Homo sapiens: one gene and its partners. The protein of the gene in region 2 interacts with the protein of the main gene of each other region in a pairwise test. Each region holds a gene or a part of one and is shown on either strand. Other genes may lie near its edges. The genes, in order: ZNF48, TACC1 and SH2D4A.

Region 1 (7,692 bases), on a different chromosome or scaffold from region 2:
GGCTGGTGCCCAGAGGAGGTGGGGGTGGGCTGGGGATCAGAGCGGGTAGGGGATAGCCTGGGAAGCTGAAGTCCTGGGGCTCCATGTGAGTGAGGCGGTGGCGAAGAAGGGTGGAGCTGAGGCTGAAGGTACGGTCGCATTCCGGGCAGGCATGGGGCCTCTCGCCACTGTGGGTGCGGAGGTGTTTGACTCGGGCGGAGCTGTCCGCGAAACCTTTGCCGCACTCTGGGCAGAGGTAGGGCTTCTCACCCGTGTGCACCCGCAGGTGCTTCACCAGGTCGGATCCCCGGGCAAACTCCTTTCCACACACATCACAGCCAAAGGGCTTGGGCCCCAAGTGACTACGCTGGTGACTCAGGAGGCTGCAGCTGAGCACAAACCTCTTGCCGCAATCAGTGCAGATATATGGCTTGTCCTGGGCCTTCGGTCCCTGGGTAGCTGCCGTGGCTGCCCGAGATGGCTGCCGTCGGGGCACCACTGGTCGGGGGGGCTGCTCCCCCCGGTGTGTCCGCTGGTGCTTGATGCGGGCGGAACTGTCGCCAAAGCCCTTGCCACATATGCCACACTTGTAGGGCTTCTCACCAGTGTGTGTCCGCTGGTGTTTCACCAGGTCAGAACTCTGCCGGAAGCTCTTGCCACATTCACCACAGATAGTGGGGCGCTCACCAGCAGGGATCCGGGACCGAGGAATCTTTGGGGGACCCTGGGCTGGTGGCCGGGCTCTATAGGGCTTCTCCCCACTATGAGTCCGCTGGTGTTTGATCCGGGCAGAGCTATCCCCAAAGCCCTTGCCACAGACCCCACACTTGTAGGGTTTCTCCCCTGTGTGGGTCCGCTGGTGTTTCACCAGATCTGACATCTGCCTGAAGCTTTTGCCACACTCACCACACACAGCGGCCCGATCACTACTAGCCTGGCCCCAGCGTGGTTCACCCAGGAGCCGGGGGCCTCTGTCCCGAGGCTGAGGCTTTCCTAGACCCTCTCTCTGGACCCATAAGTCATCCCAGTTCTGGATGCCTTCAGGTTTGAGAGAGGCATTTCCTACTTCATGATCTGGAGCCAAATCTTCTTCCTTGAACCCCAAGTCATCTTCCTGTGGGGTATGTTCAAACTCATTCGGCTGAGAAATCACGTTCTCACTCCCTAGACCTGAGGAAAGAAAAGGAAGTTGTAGACCCTCCCCTTTGGCTCGGTACTTATCTTTGACAGCAACCTCTCCAGGAAGACTCCCTTGACAATCTGTGGTCACAGGAACCCCAATCTCTCTGTCCTCTCAACCTCTGGTGCACTTACTATCTGTGCCTCTCAATAAAAACTTCTTTTTACTGTGCCCTTAATGTATGTCATTCACCAAACTCAGCATTAGTATTAAACGCTTGCAAACAATACTATAACACTATGACTATCCCCATATTACAGGCATGGAAAGACTCAGAGAATTTAAGTCCTTTTGCTGGAGGTTATAAAGGTTAGAAAGTAGCAAAGCCAGGCCAGCAGGGTGGCTCACACCTGTAATCCTAGCACTTTGGGAGGCCGAGGTGGGTGGATCACTTAAGCCCAGGAGTTAGAAACCAGCCTGGGCAACATGGTGAGACCCTAACTCTACAAAAAAAAATACAAAAATTAGCTGGGCATGGTGGTGCACACCTGTAGTCCCAGCTACTGGGAGGCTGAGGTAGGAGGATCACTTGAGCCCAGGAGGTGGAGGCTGCAGTGAGCTGTGATTGTGCCACTCTAGCCTGGGTGACACAGTGAGACCCTGTCGCCAAAAAAAAAAAAAAAAAAAAAAAGTAGCAAAGCGTGATGTCTAACTAAGGTCTCTCTGACACTCAAGCCCGTGTTAATCCCTACATTATATTGTCTATTTGGAAAACTTGGTATTTGCTATTATTATTGTATCTTATTATATTAGCCCATTCGGTAATTTATTACATCAGTTATCCTGTGTGTACCTGAGAGGACCCAGGCACACATCCCTTCCTCAAGAAGCTTAGGGTGGTAGGAGAGATAAGATTAAAGTATCAATGGTTATAATTGTGGGTGCAGAATAACTAGAATAACTATGTTGTCACAAGAGAGATAGGAGATAAGGAAATAGGAACCGGCATTACGGCAGAGCGAAGAGAAAATAATGGAGTGGAATGGAAGATAAGGTGTCAAAGGATGTTGGGACTAACCTGAGCACGCACGGTTTGGATTGGACACTAGCTAAGGCTTTTAATTAGGAGACTGGGGGACGCTAGGGAAGGTTTTCCAGAAGAGACACAGGATTATATCTGGACTTAGATCAAGCTGGCGAGAGAATGCATCAGTGGAGAGAAAGGGGCAGAGAGGAGGCTACTGCAATTGCCAGGATAAAACAGAATGAAGCCTGAAGTAGGGCAGAGGCAGTAAGGATGAGGAAGGCCGTGAGGGAGGGGACAGAGGCCGTGAAGAGCCCCTCCCGGCCTGGCGCACAGTTGGTGCTCCGAAAGCTCCCCTCCCCCTATCTCCCCAGAGGCACAGCTCACGTCCGATCTTCCAGGATCTCGGCCGGCCACAGCCAAGCATCGCAGTCCCCACCGGCCGTTACCTGTCCGTGGCGGCGCACGGCCGAGGCCCTCACCTGTGCGGGCGCCTCTCTGTGGCTCCCTCTCCTCCGGGCGGTGGAGATCTGGGCCCCAAGGCTCTACCGCGCGCTCCATCGCCGGCACGCCGCCCTGAGCAAGGGGACAGACAGCATCCCGCGGTCACGCAGCCATGTGTGGCCCGCGGCGCCCTGCCGCTGCCCTCTGCCGGCCAGCGCGGGCACCGGGCGGCGTCGGGTCCCAGGTACGGGCGCGGCTCCCGGTGCCCCCTGCCCGCGCCGCCGGCCGCCCCTGCACCTGCTGCTCCTCCCAGCGCGCAGCCGCCGCTCTCACCTTGCCGGCCGCCTCCGGCTCCGCCACCCCGGCGCCCTCCGGAGCTCCTCAGCGGGGTGCAGGCGCCCGAGCCGCCAGCGGCTCCGGGATGCAGGCTCCGCGCCAAGCCGGGAGCGGGCTCGGACCCAGGCGTCCCGGGGGCGGCCACCGGGGGCGGGGACGGGAAGCGGAAGCGCGGGGCCGCACGGAGCCGCTCTAGGACCTTGGAGGAGCTGCGGGCCTGTGGGGGTCGCCCGCGTCGGCGGTAGCTCTGTGGCCGGCGGGCGGCAGCGTGCGGCCCAGGGGCTACTCTAAGCCGAGGCCGGCGGCCCGAACTCGGTGGTATTAACCGTGTGCCTCCTGGGCTGCAGCTGGGTGGTGAGGCCCGAGGCTCTTCGTAATTGTGGCTGTGTGTCTCCAGCCACCCGCGCCGACCTCCCCGGCCGGCCGACAGCGCCAGCCACTCCGACCTGGGAGAGACAAAGAAAGAGGGATCCAAAGACGGACCCGGGGAAAGGGGTGGGGGAGAGACCAAGGCAGACAAAGGGCGGCGGAGACCCCAGACGGGGCGGGGCGGGGCGCCGAGACGTGGGAAACAAAGCGGGGCTGGTCCGAGAGGCCGAGGGCCCGGGGTGGGGGTGGGTATGGAATGGGGGCTGGGCTGGGGAGACCGAGGCAGGAGCAGAGGCTAGAGGCAGACACCGGGTAAATGCTGCTGGAGAGATGGAATCAGACCTGGGGCCCGGAACAGAGACCCTGAGCCAGAGACTCACATCAGAGCCCTGAGTCACAGAGGACGCAAAGGCAGAGAGAGACCGAGGGACAGCGGCTGACCAAAAATAAGGGGAGCCAAAGATTAGCCGCTAGAGACAGAGACGTAGAAACGGATAAGAGATAAAGTCATTGACGCAGAGTCCGAGGAGCAGTAAGAGGCTGGGAGCCTGGAGAGTAACAGGCCCAGAAGCAGAGGAACAAAAGACGATAGTGAGCGAAACGGGCAGAGACAAAGAGAAAGAGACACAAAGAAAGAGGCGGCCAGAAAGACTCCGGACAGGTCGGCAGCCCTATAGAGGCCAGGCTCAGGGAGAGGCTGAAGAACAAGCCCTGTTTCCCATCCTGGTGGGCCCCTGGCTGGAGCTGTGTTTCCAGGTTCCCAGGCCCTAGGAGCAAGATCCCAGTATCCGCTCTCTGGGCGGGCTTGGTTTTGGGGTGGAGAGAGTGTCTGGAGGTGTCTTCAGCCCCTCTGCCAATGATGGTGGGGGTAACTGTGGTTTATGCATTAATTCACATTTATTAGCATCTTAGTGCTAAGCCAAGAGTTGGGGATAAAAAGTTGAAACACCTGCAAGATTTGTCCTTGGAGAGCTACCAGTCTAAAGGAGCAAGTACACAAATCACTGAAATTAGAGAATTTAGCTGGGCCTGGTGGCCTGCCCCTGTAATCCCAGCTGAGAGGATTCCCTGAACCTGGGCATTCAAGGATGCAGTGAGCCATGATCGTGGATCGTGCCACTGTACTCCATGCTGGGCAACAGAGCGAGACCCTGTCTCTTTAAAAAAAAAAAAAAAGAGAGAGAGAATGGGCTGGGCCCAGTGGCTCATGCCTGTAATCCCAGCACTTTGGGAGGCCAAGGTGGGAGGATCACTTGAGGCCACTAGTTCGAAACCAGCCTAGGCAAAAAAGTGGACCTTGTCTCTACAAAAAAAAAACAAAAATTTAGCAGCGCATGGTAGCACATATCTGTGGTCCTGGCTACACTGGAGACTGAGGCAGGAGGATCACCTGAGCCCAGGAGGTTGAGGCTGCAGTAAACCATATTTGTGACACTGCCCTTCAGCCTGGGTAATAGAGCGAGACCCCATCTAAAAAAAAAAGAGAAAGAAAGAGAGACTGTTAAGGTAGTTATATGGACCCGGCCAGGTGCAGTGGCTCACACCTGTAATCCCAACACTTTGGGAGGCCGAGGCAGGTGAATTACATGAGGTCAGGAGTTTGAGACCAATCTGGCCAACATGGTGAAACCCTGTCTCTACTAAAAATACAAAACTTAGCAGGGCGTGGTGGCACGGGCCTGTAATCCCAGCTACTCAGGAGGCTGAGGCAGGAGTATCACTTGAACCTGAGAGGCGGAGGTTGGAAAGAGCCGAGATCACGCCACTGCATTCCAGCCTGGGTGACAGAGTCAGACTGCGTCTCAAAAAAATAAATAAATAAAATTTAAAAGGCCGGGTGTGGTGCCTCACACCTGTAATCCCAGCCCTTTGGGAGCCAGAGGCAGGAGCTCACTTGAGGTCAGGAGTTCCAGACCAGCCTGGCCAACATGGTGAAACCCCATCTCTACTAAAAATAAAAAAATTAGCAGGGCGTGGTGGCAGGCGCCTGTAATCCCAGCTACTTGGGAGGCTGAGGCAGGAGAATCACTTGAACCCCAGAGGCGGAGGTTGCAGTGAGCTGAGATCGCGCCATTGCACTCCAGCCTGGGGGACAAGAGCGAGACTTCATCTCAAGAAAAAAAAAAAAGAGTTATATGGACCAATTCACGATAGTGTGGGAGAACAGGAAGGGTTCTAGTTTGTAGTAATGAATCTCTGTGTGCCTGGCATGCATGGATGTTAGCACTGACAGAAACAGGGACCAGAAATCAACACATACCTATTGATCACTAGCTAATACCTAAACACTGTCCTAGGCCCTGGAAATAAAGAAACTCTTCAGGGAGCTCTTGGCCCAATAGGATATGGAGTTGTCAGATGGTGTGACAGGTTCTATATTGACTGTATGGACAAAATTTTATAGGAGTGTAGCGCACAGAGATACCTTCTGTAGTGTTCAGTGGGTGCAGATACTGTCTTTAAAGCCATTTATGCAGAGTGTGGTTCTTGGCCTTTGTCACTTAATTGCTACTTGACTTTAGGGAAGTTACTTAAGCTTCTGTTTCCCAAACTGTAAAATAGGGATGATAACAGCTAACTTTGATGGTTGAGGATGAATATGTGTAAAGCACTTAGCAAAAGTATCAGCTATTACTCTAATTGGTTTGATTTCGGCAAAGTCCAGACTCTGCCTGGAGTGGGGGCTGAATGAACAACTCCAGGCAGTGGGGGCTGAATAAACAGTGGGCCACATACTAATTGAAAACCTAATATGGGCCAGGCATGGTGGCTCACGCCTGTAATCCCAACACCTCGGGAGGCTGAGGTGGGCAGGTCTCTTGAGTCCAGCAGTTTGAGACCAGCCTGGCCAACATGGTGAAAACCCATCTCTAAAAAGATACAGGGCCGGGGGCGGTGGCTCACTCCTGTAATCCCAGCACTTTGGGATGCCGATGTGGGTGGATCACGAGGTCAGAAGATTGAGACCATCCTGGCTAACACAGTGAAACCCCGTCTCTACTAAAAATACAAAAAAATTAGATGGGCGTGGTGGCAGGCGCCTGTAGTCCCAGATACTCAGGAGGCTGAAGCAGGAGAATGGCGTGAACCTGGGAGGCGGAGCTTCCAGTTAGCCGAGATCGCGCCACTGCGCTCCAGCCTGGGCGACAGAGCGATACGCCGCCTCAGGAAAAAATAAAATAAATAAAAAGATACAAAAAAGTTAGCTGGGAGTGGTGGTGCACACCTGTAGTCCCAGCTACTTGGGAGGCTGAGGTGAGAGGATCTCTTGGGCGCGGGAGGTGAAAGTTGCAGGGAGCTGAGATCATGCCACTGCACTCCAGCCTGGGTGACAGAGCAAGACCCTATCCCACCCCCACCCCCCCGCCAAAAAAAAAGGAGAAAGAAAAGGAAAGAGAAAGAAAACCTTAGGCTGGAATCAGTGGCTCACGCCTATAATCCCCACACTTTGGGAGGCTGAGGCAGGTGAATCACCTGAGGTCAGGAGTTCGAGACCAGTTTGGCCAACATGGTGAAACCCCATCTCTACTAAAAAATACAAAAATTAGCCAGATGTGGTGGTACGCGCCTGTAATCCCAGCTACTCGGGAGGCGGAGGCAGGAGAATCGCTTGAACTCGCGAGCCGGAGGTTGCAGTGAGCTGAGATCACACCACTGCATTCCGTTCTGGGCAACAGAACAAAACTCTGTTTAAAAAAAAAAAAAGAAAAGAAAAAGACTGCCAGGAGCAGTGGCTCACGCCTGTAATCCCAGCACTTTGGTAGGCTGAGGCGGGCGGATCATGAGGTCAGGGGTTGGAGACCAGCCTGACCAACATGGTGAAAACCTGTCTCTACTAAAAATAAAAAAATTAGCTGGAGGTGGTGGTGCTCACCTGTAATCCCAGCTACTCAGGAGGCTGAGGCAGGAGAATCATTTGAACCCGGGAGGCAGAGGTTTCAGTGAGCAGAGATCACTGCACTCCAGCCTGGGCGACAGAGTGAGACTCCGTCTCAAAAAATAAAAATAAAAGAAAACCTAATGTGTGCTAGAAGCTTGAGATCCAAAGATGACTATGGATTACGACCTATCTTCAGAGAGGAAAATAGAGAATAGTTCCGTTTTAATGTGCCGTGAGTTTACATATTAGGAAAGCAGTGAAAGATGAAGATAGAATGTAAGTTTATTCGGCCGGGCGCAGTGGCTCACGCCTCTAATCCCAGCACTTTGGGAGGTCAAGGTGGGCAGATCACGAGGTCAGGAGATCGAGACCATCCTGGCTAACACATTGAAACCCTGTCTCTGGCCAGGCGCGGTGGCTCACGCCTGTAATCCCAGCACTTTGGGAGGCTGAGGTGGGCAGATCACGAGGTCAGGAGATCGAGAGCATCCTGGCTAACACGGTGAAACCCCGTCTCTACTAAAAATATAAAAAAAAAAT
Region 2 (7,522 bases):
CTTTAAGTGGAGCTTTGTGTTTGTTTTTGGTTTGCTTGTTTTCAACTTTGGATTTGTGGTGGTTGGTGGGAAGAATTAGGGATAATGTTGGGGTTATTTTTCTTCACTTAGAATAAACAGGCTGACCTAATTCTGTTTATATCTTTTGCACTCAACAACTGCTTCTTTAATATGTTTACATCACAGAGTAGAGAACTAAAGTGAACTTTCTTATAAAGTCAATAAACATATAGTCATGAATATTTGATGGGAATGAGAGAATCTCACAGAACTGGCTCTTCAATGACACTAGTGTAGTGTAAATATCTATCTATCTATCTATCTATCTATCTATCTATCTATCTATATATATATATATATATATATATATGTCCCCCCAGCTTCTCTGAAAGCTGACACAGTGTAACTCTTCTGTGTGGCAGTTCTGCTATAGGTTTGACCTGTGACCTAGGTTGAATGGTATACTTCCTGGGGAAAGCAAACTTTTCTTCTGTGATACAGAAGAAAACAGATCAATGGGTGGATATGACAAGAGTTGTTCACCAGAGCAAAGTCTGGGCAAGGGTCTTTCAGCAGACCCCAGGTGGGGGGCTCAGCCAAGTCTTTAATAAATGCAGTTTGGATCTTTGTTAATCTTCCTGGAACTCTGAAAGAGTATTTTCTTTTTTTTTTTTTTGAGATGGAGTCTCACTCTGTTGCCCAGGCTGAAGTACAGTGGCATGATCTCGGCTCACCGCAATCTCTGCCTCCCCGGTTCAAGTGATTCTCCTGCCTCAGCCTCCCGAGTAGCTGGAATTACAGGCGCCTGCCACCACACCTGGCTATTTTTATATTCTTAGTAGAGATGGAGTTTCACCATGTTGGCCAGGCTGGTCTCATACTCCTGACCTTAAGTGATCTGCCTGCCTTGGCCTCCCAAAGTGTGGGATTGCAGGCATGAGCCACCGCACCCAGCCTGAAAGAGTATTAGCTATGAACATACCCTGACACCTCTCTTTTAAAAAATTAGAAAGGAGCTTCTCTTTATAATTTTCTGTATAAATGCATTGTACACAGTCCTGATTTCGGTGTTTGGGTAGTGGAGGGAAGATTGTAATTCTATAGATGTTTGTAGTCTACAGGTAAAGGATAATTAGGTAAATATCTGATCTTGCAAGGTTAAGACTGTCATGTTAACATATTTGAATGCGGTCAGATGCTGTTATTGGCAATGTTGTCTTGATTAGACATCATCATGCCCTTGCCTGGTTAGACTGAGGTAGGGCAGAAAAGCAGATAGGGTGGCCACAGCCTCCTGTTGGCAATGGCACGTCTTCACTGACAGGGCTAGAGTGTTCCTAGTTGTGACTTTGCAACCTGTACCAGGTAAGAACGAAGCCAGGACTAGGAGCAGCAGACTGAGAGGAGTGGTCCAGCTAATGGACTCATATTCATTACTGCTTACACTAAGTTCAAGAACTTGCAGAGGAGTGATTTTCAGAAACCTTAGGCATTTATTTGCTAGTCCAGTCTCAAGAAGTTGCTGCAGGCCGGGTGCGGTGGCTCACACCTATAATCCCAGAACTTTGGAAGTGGGTGGATCACCTGAGGTCAGGAGTTCAAGACCAGCCTGGCCAACATGATGAAACCCCGTCTCTACTAAAAAATAAAAAAATTAGCTGGGCATGGTGGCAGGAACCTGTAATCCCAGCTACTTGGGAGGCTGAGGCAGGGAGAATCGCTTGAACCCAGGAGGCGGAGGTTGCAGTCAGCTGAGACTGCACCACCGTGCTCCAGCCTGGGTGACAGAGTGAGACTCCATCTCAAAAAAAAAAAAAAGTAAATTGCTGCATAGGTGAGGCTTAATCTTACTGGGGCCATCACTTGGTCCTGGGTTCTGTTATTTTCTGGCCCAGAAACTAGATTTCCCCAGGGGGAGTCAGGCTTTAGGAATTTATGTCACCTTAGCCAAACTCACAAGGACTATTTGTAAACTAGAATGTTTGTTTTTTCTTACATATATATTGAACACCTACTGAGTGTGTGGTTCTGTCCTAATTTCTGGAGGAAGTCCCAAAGGGGGGTAAAGTCCCTTTAGAAGCTTGTGGGACAGATATGTAAATAAATATGTTATATATGGTGTGCTAAGTGTAGAATGGCCTTACATCCTGGTCTTCTGGAGACAGTCCTGGTTTATGCCTATAGTCCCTGTGTAACTATTAAGAATGCTGTCTTTCACTTTCAGATCTAAGGCCACAGGAAGTGTTCTTTATGGATGTTCGGGGTATAGAAATGATAGAAAGGAAGGACAATGAGCCTGCTTCCCCCTGTAGACACTTGAGCTAAGTGCTGAAGGACGTTCGAGCAGCTGAAGCCTGGGAACTTGGGGTGGGCTGGGGTGGGGGAGGAGGTGTGTTCCAGGAATTCGCAAAGCTCCCTCTGCAGGCAAAGGGAGACTGTTCCCGAAGCAGTAAGCAGTTGGTTCAAGCTAGGCACTGTTTCCCAAATTTACCCTGTGATAACAGTTCCCCAGGACACTTAGTGAACACACAGATTTCCAGACTCTGCTGGCAATTTGGATTTTTTTAAGAAGGCTGGCGGATGATTCTTGGGCATATTAAAGATTGACAACGAGTTCTCTACTCACTGTGGCTAGGAATACAAAAGGATGGGCATAGAGGGGAATGGGAACCGAAAGATTAGAGCACGAGTCACTGATCAGCCAGGCAGGGGTGACCTCAGGCAAGAAAACCTTCAGAGGTAAAACCAGGTGGGAGTTATTTACAGTAGATCATGAAAGATGGGGAGTGCGGGAACTATGTCAGTCACCACAGGGATGCAAAGGAATGAAAAGATAAGAGAACTATTCAGGAGGAAGAACAGGTCCTAGTGTATGCTAGTTACTGATTTGCTGGGGTAATATTATTTCCCAGAAACAGAACCCTGTGTCAAATCCAGGAGCCTGGGGGACTGTAGAACCTGAAGTTTTACTGGGTAAGCATAAACCTAAAACTACAACAGTTGGATAAGTGGTGTGATATATTTCACATGGACCTCCTGCCTAGTTCACTTCTTTATAGTCGCTAGAACACTCATGACAATTTATTTCTGGGAAGAAGCCAGGATGAATTCGAAAGCATCCTGACACCCCACCCCTTTCTTTTCTCTAGACTTCAGGTTAACTCCTGCCCTTCGGTTTTGGTAAAACTACCCTGCCAAGCCTTATCTTGTATTTTGCTCCTGTTTTTGTTATCAAATGTGTAAAACAGTCACGATGAATATACATGCCAACTGCTTTCAGAGGCAACGGTTAGTCTCTTGCAAGTTTCAACGTGCACATTTTGGAGCTGCTGTCTCTGTGGGAACCTGCAGGCACCTCATGGATGCACCACAACTCGGAAATTACAGTACCACCTGGAACACCTTATCCAGGCAAGGAGATCATTAAGCCTGGTGTTTGAGGCAATCGATTCACTTGGAAGAAGGTGCTTTGGTGGTTTTGAGAGGAACAATCCCTACATGAAATCCCTCCATGGGAAATGGAGAACATCAGCTATTTCCCATTGCCTTCAAACCTAAAGATGTCGCCAGGCCTCTTGGCTTGTTACTGAAGCAGCGAAATAAGTCAGAAATCAAAGACTTAGAAGTTACGAAAAGAAAATCTCAAAAAGGAGAATGGGGTCAGGCGCGGTGTCAGGCCTGGAATCCTAGCATTTTGGGAGGCAGAGGCGGGAGGATCGCTTGTGGCCAAGAGTTCAAGACCAGCCTGGGCAACATATCGAGACGCCTGTCTGTATTTTAAATAAATAAATATGGAGAATGGGAAACCCATCAGGCTGTAATCTCACAGGGAATTTAGTACCCTTTACCTAAGACAAGACCTGGGCACTTGGGAAGCCTCCCCGAGTGCGGTTTGGGGAGGGGGAGGGCATCTTAAATTCCAGTCCTCGGTCACTCTTGTGGCTTTGCCAAGGGATTTTCAAATCCCGGGAATGCCAGGGATGGAGATGAACAGGCTGAAATCCCCCACGCTGCCAGGGTTAGGGAGGGGAAAACAACAGTCCACAGCGGCCGCGAAGGTTTGTATTTTTTTTTTTTTGGTAACAAGGGGCTTGTGTGCAGTCCAATATCACCATCGCCGTGAAGTCACAGTGGCAAGATGAAAATGTTTAAAAAAATTTTAAAAAGGAATAAGGAAAGAGGAAGAGGACAGCGTGCCCCGGCTCAGAAAACGGTCCTCCTCTGCCCCGGACGCCGGCGGACCTGTGGGGTATGACCGAATCTCCCCGCGCAGCCGGCAAGCCCCGGCCCTCAGTCGGGCCGCGACCAGCGTGACGCCGCGGTAGGGGGATCCGGCGGGCGCGCGGCCGTCTTCAAAGCCCCGGCGCCGCCGCCGCCCCCGCGCGCGCGCGCGAGTAGTACGGTCCGAGGGGGCGGCTTCTGGGGCGCGGCTCCGGCGGCAGCTGATGCGCGCCCCGCCGGCCGGGAGGCGGGAGTCCGCGAGCCGGGAGCGGGAGCAGCAGAGGTCTAGCAGCCGGGCGCCGCGGGCCGGGGGCCTGAGGAGGCCACAGGACGGGCGTCTTCCCGGCTAGTGGAGCCCGGCGCGGGGCCCGCTGCGGCCGCACCGTGAGGGGAGGAGGCCGAGGAGGACGCAGCGCCGGCTGCCGGCGGGAGGAAGCGCTCCACCAGGGCCCCCGACGGCACTCGTTTAACCACATCCGCGCCTCTGCTGGAAACGCTTGCTGGCGCCTGTCACCGGTTCCCTCCATTTTGAAAGGGAAAAAGGCTCTCCCCACCCATTCCCCTGCCCCTAGGAGCTGGAGCCGGAGGAGCCGCGCTCATGGCGTTCAGCCCGTGGCAGATCCTGTCCCCCGTGCAGTGGGCGAAATGGACGTGGTCTGCGGTACGCGGCGGGGCCGCCGGCGAGGACGAGGCTGGCGGGCCCGAGGGCGACCCCGAGGAGGAGGATTCGCAAGCCGAGACCAAATCCTTGAGTTTCAGGCAAGTACACGGCGTCCCCGCTGAGATGCAGACGCGCTTGCCTCCATCCATCTGCGACTCCCTCTGTGTGCGTGTGTGTGGTCGCCACCCGCGAAACCGTCCTCACGGCCGTGCCGCGTCCCTGCCCGGAGCCGGGTCCCCGTGTGCGTCCGAAAGTTCAGGATCTTCTGTCCTCCCGTGGGGTTTCTGGCCCCCGTTTCGCTAGGAGAGTTCCGCACCCAACCCAGAATCTGCAGTCTCTCCGCATCCCCGCTGGCCTCGGTCACTTTCTCTAAGCTTCGACCCCCAGCCCCCGCCCCTCCACACTGGAGCAACGTCACTGATCTAACCCAGTGCAACTTAGGGCCCCCCCGTGGGGAAGAAGTCGCTCCCCGGCCCTTCCCGGGGCCCTACCGTGTACCCAAAACGCAGCCGCGGTGAAGAAGGTCGCGTGATGACAGGCCCCTGGCAGCTGCTGGGAAATGGTGGTCTCTGCCGGGCTGTCATCCGCGTGATTGCGGAAGGCAGGTGACACCATTCTTAGCCTCGGGCCCAGGGAGTTCCAGCAGGTAGAGGCCTACCGAGCAAAGAGGAATGCCTAGCATCGGCCTAACTCGGGGGTGGGACCAGTATTAATTGTTAAAGCCTCTGGGAAAGGGCTCTTGTGACAAAAGGAGTCTGTTGGAAAAGCGCATTTTTCAGGTGTCTGAGGGAAGGATGACCTCGAAAATAAATGGTGCTGGAGAAAAGCTCCAGGGAATGGAGGAGCTTTCAGAGAGACAGGATGCCAGCCTGAGAAACCCAAGGAGGGCACTGCTCAGAGACCGCAGTTGCCTCCCGCAGGTCAGACCCTGCTGAGGACCGGTTGGTTGTGAAGTTAGACAAAAGTGCTGGACTTTTAGCCTCTGTGAATATGTAGATTTCAAAGGGTGTCGGAAATACCGTTGAAAGTGGTAATTCCTCATTTTTCCTCCTTGGCAGCTCGGATTCTGAAGGTAATTTTGAGACTCCTGAAGCTGAAACCCCGATCCGATCACCTTTCAAGGAGTCCTGTGATCCATCACTCGGATTGGCAGGACCTGGGGCCAAAAGCCAAGGTAAAGAAAAACTTGCATTTTTCCTGCCTGTTTTGTTTCAAAAGTTTTGAAAAATATCAATGAAGGAAGGAAAAAAGTGTAAATTTAGGACCATTTAAGAGAGTTTGACTAAGAAAGAGCTGTTTGAAACCTCCTGGCTTATGTATTTTTAGGGGTGTGGTGATCGAGGCTTTCTCCTCTGAGTAGAGTTTGTGCATTTGCAGTATAAGATTATCATTATCAAACATTCCTACTAGGCCTTTCTCCTCAGCCCCTAAAAAAATATGTATAGTAATGAAGTAGGAAGATCATGTTTATATTTGACTTCACAAATTCCTCAGGCTAAGTTGCTTTCTACTGGGGTGTGGCTGGAGACAAAAATTACAGGTAAGACTTGACTTAATTTTTGATAGGGAGGTTCTTAAGAGGCTTTTTCGGAATCACTCACCTCGCCCACTTCCATGCAGGGATGTGGTGAGAGCCCTTCAGTCTACTTAGGAAAACCTGGCACATGGATTCCCTCCCAGCCCCTCAGAGCCCAGCCCTTCATCTGCAGGAGCTTCCGTTGTCTCACTTAATTAGTAGAAACCTTTTTTGTCACACAGCCAGTTCAGAATAAAATTTCACCTATCCCAACAGAATTCATATGCTTATTTACTAAATAGAGTGCACTGTGATTCAGCAGTGAAGTCCTGCTCTCTCGAGCTAACATTGTGGAGGGAGAACCTGTGAAGGGTTAAGCAAAATATCTATGTCAGCTTGTGTGAAGCACTGTGGAGAAAAATAAAGCAGGGGAAGAGAATAGGGAATATGGAGTGGGGATAGGGAAGGCTGAAGGGGAGTTAGTGGGGGCATTCATGATTAGGTGACTTGAACAGAGACCTGAAGGCAGATTGAGGGAGCAGGCCTTGGAGGTTCCTGAGGTGGGAACCCTTCCAGCAGAAGGAGTGGCATCTGCAAAGGTCTGACAGCACCAGCCTGCTGCAGGGAGGCCGTAAGGTGGAGGGTTCATGGTACAGTTTGAGGACCAGCCAGGAGGTCAGTGTGGACTGACTACTCAGAGAGCAGGAGGAGCTGAAGTCAGCGTGGTCAGAGGAGGTCCAGATGCTGCTGCAGTGAGGATTTGGTTTTCAGTAAGGTGGAAAGCCACTGGAGGGCATATGCATTTCCAAGGGCTGCCATAACAGAGTAACTTAGCGGCTTACAATAACAGAAATTATTCTCTCACAGTCCTGGATAATTGAAATCAGAACCAGAAGTCTCAAGTCAAGGTGTTGGCAGGGCCTTGCTCTTCTGAAGGCTCCAGGAAGTCTGTCCTTGCCTCTTCTAGCCTCTGCTGGGTGTCTGCAATCCTTTGTGTTCTTTGGCTTGTGGCAGCAGAACTCCAGTCTCTGTCTCAACACATGGCCATCTTCTCCCTATGTATCTGTCTTACCGTGCCCTTCCTGTGAGGACACCAGTCGTTGAAGTTAGGGCCCACCCTAATC
Region 3 (7,237 bases), about 19 Mb from region 2:
TGAGTTTATTTGTGTGCCCAGAATCAGAACAGCAGGATGTGGTGCCATGTATGAAATTTCAGAATGGAAGCCAGCAAATTCCTGCAGCAACAGAAACGCTGAACTGATGGTGCTTGACACAGGGCAGAAGCCTCCTCCTGGTCAACTGTAGCTAAGCTTAGGGGAGGCCAGGTGCACACACCCCAGCCAGGAAGGACAGCAAGGAACCGACTGTCACACTGACCCAGGTGTGGACATTGCTTACCCACGTATTCACCAGACACTTAGTCCCATTTCCCCTTGCACTTAGTCATCCACTTCGTCTCTACAATTTCCCCTTCCAAACAAACACTAAGAACAGCACAAAAAGCACAGCCTCTCACATGTGCAAGGAGGTTCATGGCACCTCTGTGATGAAATTCTCACATTATTTCCATTTTTATGTTGTTTTGTTTTACTTTTTATAGCAAACGTGGATTTCTAACATTAAAATTAACTAGTTCATCTTGAAGGAAAGACACTGGCTTCCTTGTGCCTCCAAGAATACTTGGGGGACCCAGCCGACAACTATCTGTGGTCAGGCCGTTGACGATGTGGCCATTCTGCCACTGCTGAATGGTACTGGTGTAAATCACCTGTCCCCCTCACCCTCTAATTCCCAACCCCTAACCCCCGCTCCAAGGCTTTCTCAGACCCCAACTCAAGCTCAGCACAGTACACCCAAGACACCCAGAGGCACTCCAGCCTCAACTCCCAGCTCCGCCTCTAGTGAGCGGTGTGACTCTGTGCTGTCACCTCACCTCCTTGGGACTCAGTTTCCTCATCTGTGAAACGAGGACTGGTTCAGTCTGTGACTTCTAATGTGTGGGTATCTGACATAATCTACTGTGAAGCGAAGGAGCCTGGTGGAGCCAGGGTAGAAGAAATAGAAATCAGGAAATTAACTAACTAGGGCTTTCCTACTTTCACTCCCTGACAAGGAAGTAATCATTGCTGATACTGATTCAAACTCAGAGGACTTTCCCATACTATATCAAGGGCAGCAAATCTCCGGTTATTCAAGATCCAACAAAGGAATAGCTCAGCTAACACAGCCCCTTTCTTAAAAGAGAGAAATGATAAGCAACAAGCCCACACCTGCTATTTATTCTGAACACCAATTGCTAAAAGGTCAGAGAATCCGTTGTTTTCCATGATACCATAGATTTGGCCTGATTCTCACACCTTCACACTGTTCTACAATACAACTGTCTTTTGAATAACTCTGAGACCTAAACAAAATACAATTTTAAAAGGCCTTAGATACAGGCTAAATCATAAAAATAGTAGGCGGGCACAGTGGTTCTACATGTAATCCCAACACTTTGGGAGGTGGACATGGGTGGATTGCTGGAGCTCAGGAGTTCAAGACCTGCTTGGGCAACATGGCAAAACTCCGTCTCTACATAAAGTATAAAAATTAGCCAGGCGTGGTGGCCCGCACCTATAGTCCCACCTACTTGGGAGGTTGAGGTGGGGGGATCTCTTGAGTTGGAGAGTTTGAGGCTACAGTGAGCCGAGATCGCACCACTGCACCACAGCCTGGGTGACAGAAGGAGACCCTGTCTCAAAAATTAAAAACATTAGGTCGGTGCAAAAGTTATTGTGTTTTACATGGCCAAAAAAAAAGTAACTGCGGTTTTTTTTACGTAAAAACCGCAATTACTTTTGCACCGACCTAATAAAATAAAAAATAAATAAAAGTATTGTGGTATGGACAGTGTAACTATAACATTAACAATACAGTTTGAATTCTAATTCTTTTAAAACAGCCAGCTCTGTGGTCCAACTTTGTTTTCTTATTGAAACTTTATCTTATTCATCTACCAGCAAAAGGGCTGTTTTTGAGGATGAAACAAATTACCAGAGATGACAGCAGTTTGTAAATATATACTATTCTTCAGAAATTTGAGATTACTGTACACACAGATTTAGTATACATAGAGAATTCCACTCATATGCCAAATCTATGCCCCTGTATGCTTTCCACTTATTTATTCACTATTTTAAAATAATCGTACCCAAGTCGTTGTTTCTATTAAACCAGCAATCAAACGAAAGCCTTTGGAGCGATGAGGAGCATCTGTTTGAAAGGGGGAGGTGCCACGCTTGCTGCTTCTCTAAGCTCCCTGGGAAGGGAGAGACAACTCAGAAAACCTACAAACTGTAGCTCCTTCCGGTGCCCGCGTGACCCCCGAGTCCAGGAGCGGGCAGGGGCGCCGCTTGGCTGAGCGCACTGGGCACCCGGTCTGGGTCTGGGCCAGCCCCGCCGCTGCAGCCCGAGGGAGGCGGCGCTGCACTGGCCTCCGCGCGCTCCCAGACCCCACGTGGGGGCGCCCCTGGGTGCCGGTGCGCGGGGAACGTGCTGCGGGGGTGCTGCGCCAGCTGCCACCGTTTCCCGGGACTTCCCTCCTGGAAGATTTCCATGCGCAAGTCGAGGACGTGCTCCTGCTAGGAGTCTAGAAACTCTAGGCCAGCCCGGACCCTCCCGGGGCCTGCACTCCCCGCGGGTGGAAGCACGCGCCGCGTGTCCCTGCCGGATTCCAGAACTTCCCCGAAGGTCCTCAGCCCCGGCAGACCCTCTCCCTCGAAGTTCCCCCGCCACCCCCTGCAAGCCCCCAGGCCCCGGGGACCGCCGCTCACCTAGCCAGCGGCTCCAGACACCGGACACCGGACACCGGACACCGGACACCCGCCGCGGCCGCTCTCGCCGCCCAACCCCGCACCTGAGCCCGCCCCGGGCGCCGCGAAGGGGTGGAGGCGGGGGTGAGGCTTCCGCCCGCCCGCTCTGGCCCCTGCGCCTCCCATGCACCCATGCAACCTCCGAGGAAATTCCCTTCCCCCTACTCCCACCCCACGCACACTCTCCCCAAAGCCTCGCCCCACCCCCAGCACCTACCAGTGCTGGGCGCCCCTGGGCAGGGTGGCTCGATCACCCGCCACATCCACTTGGCCGCCAGAAGCCGTCGGGGAAGGGAGGGAGGGAAAGGCAGAGGCGTCCCAAGCGGCGCAGGCGGGCTGAGCAAATACTCCGGCCCGGACGCAAAACAGCTCTTGTAGCCGTCCCGCCCGCGCCGCCCCGCCGCGCCCACATGCCGGGGTGACTGGCGGGGCGCAATCGCGGCCCCACCCGGGCGCCTGGAGGCTCTCCAGGGCCACTCGTCGGCGAGGCTGCGTGGCCTGCGCATCTCGGGCCGCCTGGCCCGCGCGCTGTCCCCGAGCTGCGGTAGTCCGGGGTAGGCTTGTCCTCTCCTCTCTTAGTTCATGAGACAGGGATCTGCAGTCTGTGATCTCTTGGGGACTGCAGGACTTAGATTAAATCTGCAGATCTGGGCCTTTCCACGTTTCAGAGCTCGGGGTTCCTTGCTAGGTGTAGGGTAGGAGGGTGCGCAGGCCCCACTTGTTCACTCTGCTTGGGTGCTGCAGGCCAAGGCGACTCTGGAGCTTTTTTTTTTTTTCTTTTGTTGACATTAAGTAAATGATCAAACTCTTTGGCACTTGTCGGTACACGTGTGGCTTTGTAGGACAAGATGAAGGAAGGAAAAGGCTGGAAGGAAGGAGACCGCAGTCAACACAGACAGGTGGAGAAAATGAAAGAAAACTGGGGGAAAAGTTAAGATGCTGAAAGGAGTCTTGAGGATTGCAACAAGAACAGGTTGGCTTGGTGCCTGAAGACGTCAGGGAGGAGCTGGCAGTCCACAGTTAGAGGAAATCTTGGAGGAAAATTGAGCAGAAGCACAGTGGAAAGGCATTTCCACTGGAGGGCATTTTCCATCCTAGAGGAGCATGTGGAAGAAAACCGCCTGCTTTGGTGAACCCCAGATTTTGTGTATTGGGAGAGATGTAATAAACAGTAAACACCAGTAGTCCTCTCCACGGACTACCTGACCTCTTTAGGAGCCTGACCTGCTGGATTCAAACACAAAATGGCATTTCCCTGCCTCTCCAAACTGCAGAAGCTGTGCAGAGTTACATCAAGCCTCGGGGCAGGCGGCATTGTCAGGAAATAAGACCCAGCTATTTAGGAACAATTCCAGGAATCCCATCAGGGAGGAATTTCTGGTGTAAGGCTTAGTTCCTACTGCAGTTTAAATGATAGCATATGGGGTGCTTTAGGCTGGAGTGGGATTGGCCCCTGGAAAGCTGCTATGACGAGGTCAGAATGAATCCTAGCCCTGCATGGATGCATCAGTTGAACCATACAGGGTGGTTTATCAGTTAGGAAAAATCCCACAGGACACTGTGACAGCCTACCTTCCTCACACCCAGTCTCTCTCCAGGTCCTGGCAAGTCCTTCCTTATAACAGCTTTATCACTGTGCTACTAACCTCTGTACCTCACTTTCCTCCTCTAGATAAAGAGTGTCTGCCTCGGTAAGTTGTCAAGAGGGTTAAATGAGATGCTACATGCAAAGAGATTAGAAGAGCTCTTGGCATGTGGTGAGTGTTCAAACACATTCACTCAGATCAGTTCATATCACATTAAGGTACTGGAATTCCACATTCCTGCCATCTCACCCTAGGCTGTGGGTTCTGCCCACCATGCCACCTACCTTCCAAGTCATTCCCAGGGATCCTATCCTCCTGGTATTCACATCCTTGCATAGCTCCCTGCCACTTTGTAAAGGTTGGTATGCTTGACCAATAGAACCCGGCAGAAGTGATGATGGTCTGCCACTTCAGAGATTAGGTAAGGAAACACCTTGGTGCTTCTATCTTGAAATAATATTGACAGCCCAAAGGAACGCACGCTGTACACAAATAATGCAAACAACTCAGAACCCAGACTCTCTTCCCTTTTCTCTCATCTGCCCATTTCCATCCTTCTTGTCTCGTGGCTCTTTCCTATATTTGCCATGAACTCTTCTTCTTCTCTTATTTTTATAGTTTCTTCTCCATCCTCTTCACTTGGTCTCCCCTCTCCTCTATCACCTTCTCTTTTTGTTTCCTTTCTGCTGACTCCTGGAATTTCCTCTTTTAATTGGCATGGTCTGGAAGAGAAAAGGTAGATGTTTTTCCCTTAATTTCAAAAGTAGACAATTCGAATTTTTTTTTTTTTTTTTTTTTTTGAGATGGAGTTTCACTCTTTTTGCCCAGGCTTGGAGTGCAGTGATGCAATCTTGGTTCACTGCAACCTCGGCCTCCTGAGTTCAAGTGATTCTCCTGCCTCAGCCTCCCAAGTAGCTAGGATTATAGGCACCTGTCACCACAACTGGCTAACTTTGTATTTTGTTTTTGTTTTTTTTTTTTGTTTGTTTGTTTTTTAGTAGAGACTAAGTTTGACCATGTTGGCCAGGCTGGTCTCAAACTCCTTACCTCAGGTGATCTGCCTACCTTGGCCCCCCAAAGTGCTGGGTTACATGCGTGAGCCACTGCGCCTGGCCAAGAATGTTTTATAATGCTCTAAAAAAAAATCAGGTGGCCTATTACTTGTGGGGCCTTCAGTTACTTTTTCCCTCCCTTTGGGCCAGTACTCTCAGAGGAAAACATTTCCCCCCTCCATGATCTAGGATGTGTTATAGGGACGAATGTGGGGAAGACTGCTGACAGGGGCTGGCCACTGACGAGTCACAGACATGGAACATGGTAGCACCAACATGTGTTCAGGAATGCTCTGCTGCAGCGTTCACTGCCAGAACTTAAAGAGAAAGCTAAACATCTATTTATTGGTTACTAATATTTTTAATTTGTCATTTATTCGTGGTAATGAATACCATGAAACAAATAGCCTACATTTTAATGGATGTGTTCCTTGGCCTTCCTTTTGGACTGTTGCTTAGGAGCCCTGCTGCCCAGGGCTGTCAAGTAAAATGGCATAGCATGGCCCTTGTACAACTGTGGGTGGGCAGGGGACAAGCACAGAGATCACTATGTGTAAGGCGCCCCCTGGAGTTGTGCAACACTGCCAGCCCTATTGTTGCCAGAAAGACAGGATAAGCCACTTTGCACTTTTTCTGAGATAAAGATTAATCCTTATTTCAGTTCTACAGACAATGAAAATTGCCTTCATATGTTTTCTTTATAAAATAGAGTATTTTTCCTGTCATATTTTATGATCAGCATCAGAAACCTCAACCACTTTTTAACTGTTAGAGCAGGTATACACTTGTACCACAGTGAATGTAACGTACAAATGAAAGAAAAATACAAAAACATTTAAACTTTACTAAAAACTGATCAAATCTCAAAATAAATCTTAATCAGTTCATCAATCATTAAAAATATATTTAGGGTCTGCTGTGTTTTCAGCTCTCTGTGAGCAGTTAGATTTGATTTTGAACTATTTTCATTTGTGTATGGTTCTGTATGGGCCTTTATTTCTTCATCTTCATAAACACCAAGATAAATTATTGGTCTTTACATTCATCTTTGAATCAATTACATTACTGTAATATTTAATGTTTTTCCAAGAGTTACCTTTATGGAGTTCTTTCTCTAAAATCCACACTCTGAGTTGCTAATTAGACATTTCTGGTCTCTCATATGTGTGTGTGTATATATATATATACATATATATATGTGTGTGTGTGTGTGTGTATGTGTATGTGTATATATGTATGTGTGTGTATGTATGTATGTGTGTATATATATGTTTTAGATGGAGTCTCGCTCTGTCTCCAGGCTGGAGTGTGGTGGCACGATCTTGGCTCACTGCAACCTCCACCTACCGGGTTCAAGTGATTCTCCTGCCTTAGCCTCCAGAGTAGCTGAGACTACAGGTGTGTGCCACCACGCCTGGCTAATTTTTTGTATTTTTAGCAGAGGCAGGATTTCTCCATGTTGGTCAGGCTGGTCTCAATCTCCTGACCTCGTGATCTGCATGCCTCAGCCTCCCAAAGTGCTGGGATTACAGGTGTAAGCCACCATGCCCGGTGGTTTCTTATATTTCTGTAATACAGTGACAAGCAGCCCGTGTCTCAGAGAACTGCTCACCTCAAACTTATGGGTGGAATTGGACAGTCGCTATCCCAACGATATGGGACATCTGCAGTGGCCTATGGTAACCAGTGCTTTTTTATGGGTCAAAGCTCTGAGAAAGGAGCAGAAGCAAACTTTTTCTAATATTCTGGTGTTCCTTGGATCTTCCCAGGCAGTTTTGATAAGGTCTACTAGACTCATAAAATCAAATCTCATCTCTTTTTTGGACCAGATTCAGAAATGCGTTTCCATTTCCTAGCTTCTCTCTTACAGGCAATCTTTGCAAAAAGTGCACAAATCCC

The links.
Region 1: the proteins of TACC1 (region 2) and ZNF48 interact in binary tests that used the Homo sapiens proteins (3 or more experiments, as listed by UniProt).
Region 3: the proteins of TACC1 (region 2) and SH2D4A interact in binary tests that used the Homo sapiens proteins (3 or more experiments, as listed by UniProt).

Annotation. Positions count from the first base shown.
Region 1 is NC_000016.10:30,390,787-30,398,478, reverse strand, and holds the start of ZNF48 (zinc finger protein 48), read right to left. Parts: upstream 3,060-7,692; 5' UTR 2,901-3,059; exon of another isoform or gene 2,700-2,900; 5' UTR 2,685-2,699; coding exon 2,606-2,684; intron 1,150-2,605; coding exon 1-1,149. UniProt on the Homo sapiens protein: May be involved in transcriptional regulation.
Region 2 is NC_000008.11:38,782,764-38,790,285, forward strand, and holds the start of TACC1 (transforming acidic coiled-coil-containing protein 1), read left to right. Parts: upstream 1-4,472; 5' UTR 4,473-4,793; coding exon of another isoform or gene 4,794-4,819; coding exon 4,820-4,980; intron 4,981-5,342; exon of another isoform or gene 5,343-5,483; intron 5,484-5,940; coding exon 5,941-6,056; intron 6,057-7,522. UniProt on the Homo sapiens protein: Involved in transcription regulation induced by nuclear receptors, including in T3 thyroid hormone and all-trans retinoic acid pathways. Might promote the nuclear localization of the receptors.
Region 3 is NC_000008.11:19,309,504-19,316,740, reverse strand, and holds the start of SH2D4A (SH2 domain-containing protein 4A), read right to left. Parts: upstream 3,049-7,237; 5' UTR 2,964-3,048; coding exon of another isoform or gene 2,918-2,963; intron 2,747-2,917; exon of another isoform or gene 2,662-2,746; intron 1-2,661. UniProt on the Homo sapiens protein: Inhibits estrogen-induced cell proliferation by competing with PLCG for binding to ESR1, blocking the effect of estrogen on PLCG and repressing estrogen-induced proliferation. May play a role in T-cell development and function.